Linked DNA regions of Homo sapiens: region 2 is linked to region 1. The links come from fine-mapping of genetic effects on gene expression. A gene starts in region 1. The other region holds a variant in brackets. All regions are shown on one strand. Distances are between the middles of the regions. Region 1 holds the start of KCNIP2-AS1 (KCNIP2 antisense RNA 1). Region 2 overlaps ARMH3 (armadillo like helical domain containing 3).

Region 1 (5,370 bases):
GGGAGGAGGAATAAACGAGAGAATGGCAGACAACTCTGTTCTTTAAATAGGAAGAATCGCCTTTTAATGCTATTCTAAACAAACGAATTTAAACCAAATGAGTTTTCTCCTTTTATAACTGAAGGTATAATGGACTGGCAAGTTTCCTTAGACTCATTCCAGTCTAGCTCCGAAATTTCCCAGCACTCTCTCATCCCCACTCCAAGATCTTTGATAACAAAAACCAGATTCTTTTTCTAAAATCTCCCTGCACTCAAGCCAATAAATACAACGATATAAGTCACACAATGCAATCATTTTTGATGAATACTATATAGCAGTTTTCCATTCTGTAATCCCCCAAATTCTGCAAGACAGTTAACTTCGCTGAACTCTTTCATGCCTTACTGTAGCAGCAAAGTAGCCTGTTATGGTCTGTACCATAACCACCACCCATTTTTCGAAAGAATACTCTAATTTATATGGTGAAAAAAAACAGAAAAGCTGATGTTCTCAACGTCGAGAGCAATCCTTTTTCCATACCTTTTTGGTTTTTTAAATATATATATTTTTTACCCTTATCCACGCCATTACATACGAGAGAGATATAAAACAGACATCTAGGAAACTCTGAATCGGCCAAAATACTTCAGAAAATTCAAATACATGCTGTAACTGCGGAAAGACTAATAATGTAACCGATTCGTGCCTCTACAGAGCTGCAAGGTGGACTATCTGTCCATTCTCATCCAGAAACTGAAACAAGCATCTGGTAATTTTCCCTCACTACCAAAAAGTCCATCGTTCTTTTCGACTGTAAATGGGAAAAAAGGCGAGAAGGGCATTTTTAAAGCCGCTTCTGCGGTCACTAAATTCCAATTACGCATCTCAGATACTTCGAGAATCTGTGATTAAAGCCAAAGTTTCATCCCTCGAGAGCAAAGTACAGTAGCTGGGAAAGAGGGCAATTTTCTAAGTTGCAAATGAATCTTTGCGGGGGTGGGGGGAAGCAACAAAAATATTCTAAGCCAAGTGGAACTTGAAATACTATAGGCCAAACGTGCTTCTCTTCACTCCAGAAGTACAAGCACGTCAGTGTGGGCCGATTTTCCACAAAGGGTGGTGACAGAAGCACTACACATATTTTTTCACTGGAACCAGACAACCCTAGGGAATAAGATCCCAAGGTACAAAGAAGTAGAACTCAGAGGCTAACAGAACACCAGGCTCTTAACCACCGCCTCCTTAGGAGGTGGCCTGGCTCCAAGCCCAAGACGGGTGGGGTCAGACTTGTGAGTGGCCAGGGGGGAATTCGACGCCGTCTTAAGACGTGCAAGGAGATTCGCCCAACATCTCGTCTCTCCCCTCGCTTTAGGAGGGCCACATTTCAGACCCAGAGGCTTTCCGGCCTTTTAGAGTCTCCAAAATCCCCGCCACCACCCTCCTCCCGAGGACAGAACGTGTTAGTGCCAAAACGGGGAGGGAAGGAGGGCGCTCACCTTCCACCACACCGCAGAGGAACCGCCGAGCCCCTCCTGCAGCCCCGGCCACCGCCGCTCCCCCAGCCCCGGCGGGGTTGTCTTCTCCGGGTGCCGGAGCTGCCGGCGGCTCCAGCGATGCCCCCGCAGAGGCGGCAGGGTTGGAGCTGAGCTCGCTCTCCCGCTCCTCCAACGTCGCTTGACTCTCCTTCTGCACCATCCTCCTGCCCCCGGCCGCTGCCACCTCTGCGGGTCCTCCTCGACCTCTGTCCGTTGGGGCACCGGCCCGGAGCCCTGGAGAGGGCTTCAGCTCCAAGTGTGCGCCCCTCCGGCTCCTTCCCCTCCCCCTCTGCCCTTCCCCCTCCCTCTCCGCAGGGACCCGAATGCCCGGATGAGAAGGGCGGCGGCACCGGCGCGAGCCCTTTGTCAGCCGCAGCCTCGGCTTTAAGCTGGGGCGCCAGAAGCCTAAGCGGAGAGCGAGGCTGTGACCTCTCGTTCCCTGGAAGAAGACGGCCAAGGGTCCTGTCCTCGTTCTCTGCCTCTGCTGCCCTCCCGATAATCTTAGGTCTTCCGCTGTTTCCCCTCCAAGCCCCGAGCTCTCCCTCTGCTGCTGCCTCCACCGCCCGCTTCCTGTTTATCCGCACTGCGCTTGCGCTGCAGACCGGCTCAGACCGGTCCCCTCCGCCCGGCTCCCCCGCCTTCTTTGGGGCTAGCCTATTAAGCTTCTTTAGGTAGGGGGAAATAGAACAGGAGACGCGAAAAGCAGAAGGTAATGAAGGCAGTGGAATGTACCATTTCTGCTTGCCACCCTCCGAAACAAGCCTGGCACCCTGGGACGGACGGACCATTACCCGCCCCGAAGGAGGGGAGTATGGGAGGAGGCTGCCGCCGGTTGGGGCAATAGGGAGAAGGGGGGAAGGTGAAAAGGAGAGGTGTTTATTCTCTCAGTGCGCAGGCGCGGAGCCGCGGCCTCTCGTTCTTAAAGAGATAGGAAAGAACTGACCTACTTTCTATGGAGATTCTTGTAATAGGTGGGCTCATTACATCTGCCTAACCCAGGCTTGGTTCGGTAAAGACACCATTCCAAGGAGCTCAGCTCACCCCTCTGCCTTGAATCATTTTCCCCTAATCCCATTTAAAATGTAATCATTCGTTCATTCCTTCATTCAGTAGACATCTATAGAGCTTGCCTCGTGCTGGGCTCTAGAACACTATGAGCTCACAGTACGGTGGTGGAGACAAGCCACCACACACGCAGTTCCCACAAGGTGTCCCCAAGAACTTCGGAGCTCAGAACAGGTGATACTCACTCCTCCTTTGGGGAGAGGCCGTGGGCATGGCTTCACTTTTCAGCTGGATTATAAAGGATGTGAAGTTAGCCTGACTGAGCAGAAGGGGAGGGAAGACAGCACTCCAGGAAAGTGGAACGAACAACAGAGTCCAAAGGTAGGGAGGCATGAAAAGCCTGCCTTGTTTGGGAATGGGGAGCGCGCGGTGTGTGCAGTGGGGCATGAGATCCCTTCGGCCTCGGCATGGGCATCGCTTCCTTGGGAAGCCTTCCCTGAGCCCTAGATGGGTTTGGGTCTCCTTGCTGTATGTTCTCAGAGCTCTCTTGTAGACCTACCCTAATGCACTTTACATTTATGATGCTTGAGAAATCTATCTCAACCTGTGAGGTATAAACATGAAATGATGATTAAGACTTAGTAATGTCCATCTTACACTTCAGTCTGATATTTACCTTCTTTAGCCGTAGCCCAACTTGTAGTTTCAGGGACTTTCATGGTCCCTCTTCTTTTCAGTCCTGGATTGTTGAGATGGGGGTTAGGAGCAAACTTTTTTTTTTTTTTTGAGACAGAGTTTCACTCTGTCGCCCAGGCTGGAGCGCAGGAGCGCAGTGGCGCAATCTCGGCTCACTGCAGCCTTCACCTCCTGGGCTCAGGCTATTCTCCTGCCTCAACCTCTCGAGTAGCTGAGACTACAGGCACCCGCCACCACACCCGGCTAATTTTGTGTTTTTAATAGAGACGGGGTTTCGCCACGTTGACTAGGCTAGTCTTGAACTCCTGACCTCAGGTGATCCACCTGCCTCGGCCTCCCAAAGTGCTGGGATTACAGGTGTGAGCCACCGCGCCCGGCCGGACAAGCATTTTCTTAAGGGACCTCCTGTGCTGAGAGTTAGGGGCCATAGCAGCTTTACTGGATATTGTGGTCCGTTGGGGTTGAGAACACAATTTTTTTTTTTTTTTTTTTTTTGTAAGAGAAGAGGTCTCATTTTGCCACGCAGGCTAGTGCAATCATAGCTTAAGTATCGAATTCCTGGGCTCTCAAGGGATCTTCCCGCCTTAGCCATCCCGAGTAGCTGGGACTATAGGCGAGTGCCCGCCACCACACTCTTTTAATTTGTTCATTTTTGGTAGAGACGGGGGTCTCAACATCTTGCCCAAGCTGGTCTCAAACTCTTGGGCTCAGGTGATCCTCCAGTCTCAGCCTCCCAAAGTGCTGGGATTACAGACACGTGCCACCTCACCTGGCCGAAAAGAACTTTTATCTGAGGAATGAGAGTCCTTTTAAATTATCAGGCCCAGATGGCTGGGCGCAGTGTTGGTGTTTGCAACCAGCCTGGGCAATATTGCCAGACCCAGTCTTTATAAAAAAATAAAAATAGGCCGGGCGTGGTGGCTCACACCTGTAATCCCAGCACTTTGGGAGGCCGAGGCAGATGGATCACCTGAGGTCGGGAGTTCGAGACCAGCCTGACCAACATGGAGAAACCCCGTTTCTACTAAAAATACAAAATTAGCTGGGCATGGTGGCAGATGCCTGTAATCCCAGCTACTCGGGAGGCTGAGGCAGGAGAATCACTTGAACCCGGGTTGCGTGAGCCGAGATCGTGCCATTGCACTCCAACCTGGGCAACAAAAGCTAAACTCCATCTCAAAAAAAAAACAAAAAAAAAAAAAAAAAAAAAAAGCCAGGCGTAGTGGTGTGCACCTGTAGTGCTAGGATCTCACCACTGCACTCCAGCCTGAGCCACAGAACAAGACCCTGCCTCTAAAAAAAAAAAAATTAAAAAATAAATAAATCTTTAAAAATTAAAAATAAATAAATAGGCCCAGCGAGGCATTAAAATGACAGAATCAGCCGGGCTCAGTGGCTCACGCCTGTAATCCCAGCACTTTGAGAGGCCAAGGCGGGCAGAAAGTCAGGAGTTCAAGAATAGCCTGGCCATCATGTTGAAACTCCGTCTCTACTAAAACTACAAACAATAGCTGGGCATGGTGGTGCGCGCCTGTAATCCCAGCTATTTGGGAGGCTGAGGCAGGAGAATCACTTGAACCTGGGAGGCAGAGGTTGCAGTGAGCCAAGATCGTGCCACTGCCCTCCAGCCAGGGCAACAGAGTGAGACTCAGTCTCAAAAAAAAAAAAAAAGAAAAGAAAATGACAGAATCACATCCTATGCCTCCCTCCTTTGAGCTATGTATTCATCTCTTGACACTGCTTGCTCTTGCCACAAGTAGCTATAAATTAACCTAATAATGTTGTACTGGACATTCTAACACACACCCTATAGTTTAACAATGTATAGCCAATCAATAGCTTATGTTATTTTAATGTAAACTGTTGGTAAATAACTCAGGAACTGCCTCTTCTTTCCCTATAAAAATCCACTTGTAACTGCTGCTAATCAGAGTGTCTATTTAGGGCAACTTGAATCTATGCTCTTTCGTTGCAATCCTCAAGCTTATAATAAACTCTCTACTTGTATTCATTTTGCCTCAGCTTCTTCCTTATAGGTTGACAGGAGATTTGGGGGCTGTCATTCTGGCTGATGTCCTTAGTCTCATGACATTTTCCTCTTTGCCTTAATCACTGCCAGCAAGTCAGCAGCCACAATTTCTCCTACTTTCCA
Region 2 (5,370 bases), 150 kb after region 1:
AGGCACCTGCCACCACACCTGCCTAATTTTTTGTATTTTTTATTTCACTGTGTTAGCCAGGATGGCCTCCATCTCCTGACCTCGTGATCCGGTCGCCTTGGACTCGGCCTCCCAAAGTGCTGGGATTACAGGTGTGAGCCACCGTGCCCAGCCATTTTTGTATTTTTAGTAGAGACGGGGTTTCACCATGTTGGCCAGGCTGGTCTCGAACTCTTGACCTCAGGTGATCCACCCGCCTCAGCCCTACAAAGTGCTGACATTACAGGCATGAGCCACTGTGCCTGGCCTATTTACTTATTTGTTTTTATTTTTTATTTATTTATTTTTGTTTTTGAGATGGAGTTTTGCTCTTGTTGCCCAGGGTGGAGTGCAACGGCACGATCTCGGCTCTCCGCGACCTCTGTCTCTTGGGTTCAAGCGATTCTCCTGCCTCAGCCTCCCGAGTAGCTGGGATTACAGGCATGGGCCACTGCACTTGGCTGTCTCCTGGTAGTAGTTTTAAAAGGTCAACTTAAAATAAGGTGGTAGTAGGCTACTGACCTACTTATTTTATGCCATTTCCCTTTCGTTAAAGTAGGGGTTCTCTTTTTCTTTCTTTTTTTTTTTTTTTTGAGACGGAGTCTTGCTCTGTCGCCCAGGCTGGACTGCAGTGGTGTGATCTCGGCTCACTGCAAGCTCCGCCTCCCAGGTTCACGCCATTCTCCTGCCTCAGCCTCCCGAGCAGCTGGGACTACAGGCGCCCGCCACCACGCCTGGCTAATTTTTTGTATTTTTAATAGAGATGGGGTTTCACCGTGTTAGCCAGGATAGTCTCGATCTCCTGACCTCGTGATCCGCCCACTTCGGCCTCCCAAAGTGCTGGGACTGCAGGTGTAAGCCACTGCGCCCGGCAATTTTTGCATTTTTAATAAAGACAGGGTTTCGCCACGTTGGCCAGGCTGGTCTCAAACTCCTGACCTCAAGTGATCTGCCCGCCTTGGCTTCCCAAAGTGCTAGGATTACAGGCATGAGCCATCACTCCTGGCCAGCTCAGAGTACATGTCTCTAAATGTCTTAGGACTTCACTCCACTGGCCTAAGATAATTAAACGCACACAATCTCAAAAAAACAAGCGATTGCAGGAACTCAAACAAGTATTTGTACACCCATGTTTACAGCAGCATCATTCACAACAGCCAAAAGGTGGAAGCAACCCAAATGTCCATCAAAAGATGAACGAATAAACAAAATATGGTATATACATATGGCAGAATATTACTCAGCCTTAAAAAGGAAGAAAATTCTGACAACATAGATGAACCTTGAAGATATTATTCTAAGTGAAATAAACCAGTTACAAAAGGACAAATGCTGTTTAATTCCACTTAAATGAAATACCCAGAGTAATCAAATTCAGAATTAGTGTTGCCAGGGTCTGGCATGAGGGGGAATTAAGAATTATTGCTGGCCAGACACGGTGGCTCACACCTGTAATCCCAGCACTTTGGAGGCCAAGGAAGGTGGATTACCTGAGGTCAGGAGTTCAAGACCAGCCTGTAACATGGTGAAACCCCGTCTTTACCAAAAAAAAAAAAAAAAAATTAGCCTGGCATGGTGGTACACACCTATAGTCCCAGCTACTCGGGAGGCTGAGGCAGGAGAATCACTTGAACCCAGAGGCGGAAGTTGCAGTGAACCAAGATTGCACCACTGCACTCCCACCTGGGTGACAGAGTGAGACTCCATCTCAAAAAAAGAAAAAAAAAAGTTTTTGTTTAATGAGTACTGAGTTTCAGTTTGGGAAGATAAAAAAAAGTACTGGAAATGGAAGGTAGTGATGGTTGCACAATGTGAATATACTTAATGCCACTGAACTGTATGGTTAAACATAGTTACAATGATAAATTTTATGTTTATTTTACCCCAATTAAAAAGAAAAACAAAAGGTCAATGTTTTTCTTTCCACAGACACTCCCAACAGCCTCACAAACACTCCAGTCTCACTTTCTGTAACCTCTGCATAACTGACTGGCTGACATTCACGTCAAAGTACACCATACTAAGTACAGGGACAAACACACAAAGATGCTTCCTCACTGATAGGTAAAAGGAAAGGAGCCAAATATACTCAATCAACAGAGAGCCCATGAACTTGAGCAGGAATGCAAATTCAAAATGAACCCCGGGCAGCCTTCAAGGCAACACTGTGGCAATCTTCAAAATAATCACCAAAGTTCACCATCCAAACTAACAATGCACTAAATACCAACACTATCCTACAAAATCCTCAGGGACTCTGGGTTTGATTCCTAATCCTTGCTGTTTCATCTGTTATACTTAATGAGGTTCCAAGTACTCTTAACTCTGCACCAAGTGAAGAACTGAGAAATTACTGCAGTAAAATATTTGAGGTATTATATTACACATTAAATACGTTTAAGTTGTAGGGAAGTGAGTGCTCAATACACACTCATTTCTTCATTGGCAAGTCTTTCATACCAGGCCCCTTGAAAACTTATTTTCTGGGCTGTTTTTCAGGAACTCCAAATTGGCTACAACTGCTCTCTTTTGACTCTGTACTAGAGGCAACTATCAGTCTCACACTCAGCTTCAGCCCATGTTCCCTTCCTTGGGGAGTCCTGTGCATCATATCTGCTGAAAGAGTATGACAACAGTGTGTAGAGTTCTGACTTTTCTGTATGCACATGCAGATAGAATATAGAAGAGTGTACAGGTTCGGGAAGCTGAGCCAGGACCAGGCACTCTGATGGTTCCCTAAGTCCCACGTGAATTCCTAGAGATAGAAGCAGACAATCTAATTTTTTTTTCTTTTTCTTTTCTTTTTTTTTTTTTTTTTTTAGACAGAGTCTCACTCTGTCACCCAGGCTGGAGTGGTGCAGTGGTGCAATCCCGGCTCACTGCAACCTCCACCTCCCGGGTTCAAGCGATTCTTGTGCCTTAGCTTCCTGAGTAGCTGGGATTACAGGCATGCACCACCACACCTGGCTAATTTTTGGTTTGGGTTTTTTTTTT[T/G]TTTTTTTTTTTTTTTTTTGAGACAGGCTGGAGTGCAATGGTGTGATCTTGGCTCACTGCAACCTCTGCCTCCCGGGTTCAAGCAATTCTTCTGCCTCAGCCTCCCAAGTAGCTGGGATTACAGGCGCCCGCCACCACGCCTGGCTAATTTTTGTATTTTTAGTAGAGACAGGGCTCCACCAGGCTGGTCTCGAACTCCTGACTTCAGGTGATCGGCCAAAGTGCTGGGATTATACGTGTGAGCCCCTGCGCCCAGCCCACCCTAATTTTCAAATAGGAAGAGTTGAATACGATCCATCTGAGAATCCTGCCATCTTACACAGTGCCCCCAACACACACCCCACAAGGAACCTTTTTTGCAGAGCTGTTCCTAGCATTAATACACAATGAGAACTTTCCCAGAATTTTTTCTATCCTGCTTTGAATTCAGGAGGAGGGAAAAAAGGTAGCAGCAAATTGTGTTGCCATGTAGCAGTAGAATGAATAATGGATATGAGAACTTCTCCAGGACTAAAACCTGTCCCCCACATTAAGGTAAACCAGGTGCAGAGAGGAACAAGCCAACCACAGGAAGACACAATTAAGTGGTAGCTCAGGCCTCTGCCTCAAAAAAGGAGAGGGGAGGCTTAATTATAAAACCAAGTGAATGACATTTAAATAAGATTAAAAACAGGAAAGAGACAGCCTCCAGGAGAGCACAAACTAATATCTCCAAAGAATCAGGTCAGAGAAAGCTGTCTATTTGAGCAGCTTTTACATGCTATGAAGACAAACAGCAAAGACAACACTCACCCAGACTTGATTTTGTGACCTGGCATGGAGCTAGGTTTAGGTACCACAGAACCCAAATCAAAACCTGTTCATTAGGAGAGATGGATAATTTCACAGTGACTAATAAAAGAATAATATTACCATCTCAGTTGCTTAGGAGAGAAGTCAAGAAACTCAAAGGACACGATGAAAATAGCACTAGTGTAACAAGCTCATGCCACCAAAACCCTGGAAGCACTATAAACTCTAGCCAATTCCAGCATCTCTGGACAAAATCACCAATTACCCAGGGACATTGCCAGCAATCAGCAGGCTCACTGTCAATCAGCAGAGTGGTGCAGGAGAGAATCTGAAGCCAACACCTGCCAGTAGAATAATTTAAAAATACTCAGCCAGATGCGGTGGCTCAAGCCTGTAATCCTAACACTTTGGGAGGCCAAGGTAGGTGGATCACAAGGTCAGGAGTTCAAGACCAGCCCGGCCAACATGGTAAAAGCCCGTCTCTACTAAAAATACAAAAATTAGCCAGGCATGGTGGTGTGCGCCTGTATTCCCAGCTACTCGGGAGGCTGAGGCAGGAGAATTGCTTGAACCAGGGAGGCAGAGGTTACGGTGAGCTGGGATCGCGCCACGGCACTCCAGCCTGGGCTACAGAGCAAGACTCAGTCGTGGGGGGAGCAGGGGGCGGGGAACAACTCTAGGTGGCTTTTCAGAATACAGGCATCTGTCTGGATGCAAGCCTAAGCACTTCACTGACACAGAGGCCAAAGAATCAAACAAGAAAATGAAATGGCTCTGGCTGTATGCTATCAGCCTCTCCAGGTGAACACAGCACACAAGTCAGTATGTCAACAGCCTGCACTGACTAAAGGCTCCACATTCCTCTAAATGAGTCAGAAATAGAACAAATCCTTTCTTTAAACGGAAATCTGCTTCCATCCTTACCATTTTCCTTGCAGTCAATGTGTATCTGCTAAAAAAAAAAAATAAATAAGGTTCTCAACCATCTTCCATTCCCCATTTTCTTGCAGACAATGCAAACCTCACAATTAGCACCCAGCCTCTTCTTTTTCATGAAAATGAGTTTCCACATGAAAGTTCCCAGATCCTAGACTTTGGGAAATGTAGGGTCCCTGTGCAGCTGCCTCTAACCAAGCATGCTCAGGAGCCACTGCCTTCTTCTAGGGCCCTATACCACCTGCTCCTTTCCCCCCACCGTTTCCTAAAGGAGTGATAGCCAAAATCACCCTTTAAGAAATCTAAAAGTCAATGAGACCATGTCTCAGTGGAGCCATCTGACACAGAACCAATAACTTTACTTTTTGCCAAAATGAGGTAGGACCAATAACAGACTTGTCTTGCTCCCTCGAGATCCAGAGAAGGATGATACCTTATGAAACCACATGACATGTCCCTTTGAAACTAATATAGGCAGAGTAACCAAAAGCACAGCTAATCCTTCCCTGGTCCCTTTTACTTGACAAAATGCTCATGGGCCTATGAGAGTTGACATTTTTCTGGATAGGAAGTGACTGCATGCACAGAGAAAAGAACAAAGTGATTTCTTGCTCTTTTGGGGGCTTTTAC

What was found.
Region 2: its variant is fine-mapped to the expression of KCNIP2-AS1 in whole blood (INTERVAL, PIP above 0.99).

The regions. Positions count from the first base shown.
Region 1 is chr10:101,816,346-101,821,715 of GRCh38, forward strand. KCNIP2-AS1 (KCNIP2 antisense RNA 1) reads left to right here and starts at 2,723. Exons shown (of 3, transcript NR_045118.1): 1 at 2,723-2,903. It overlaps OGA (O-GlcNAcase), which reads right to left and starts at 2,099. Exons shown (of 16, transcript NM_012215.5): 1 at 1,479-2,099. The coding sequence starts at 1,677. RefSeq lists enhancers at 1,632-2,207, 2,009-2,128 and silencers at 1,659-1,718, 1,799-1,858.
Region 2 is chr10:101,963,284-101,968,653 of GRCh38, forward strand. The region is part of intron 20 of ARMH3 (armadillo like helical domain containing 3); the gene reads right to left. Among named protein-coding and RNA genes, the nearest start is that of ARMH3, 90 kb to the right of the region's middle. The variant T/G (reference allele first, on the strand shown) is at 3,013.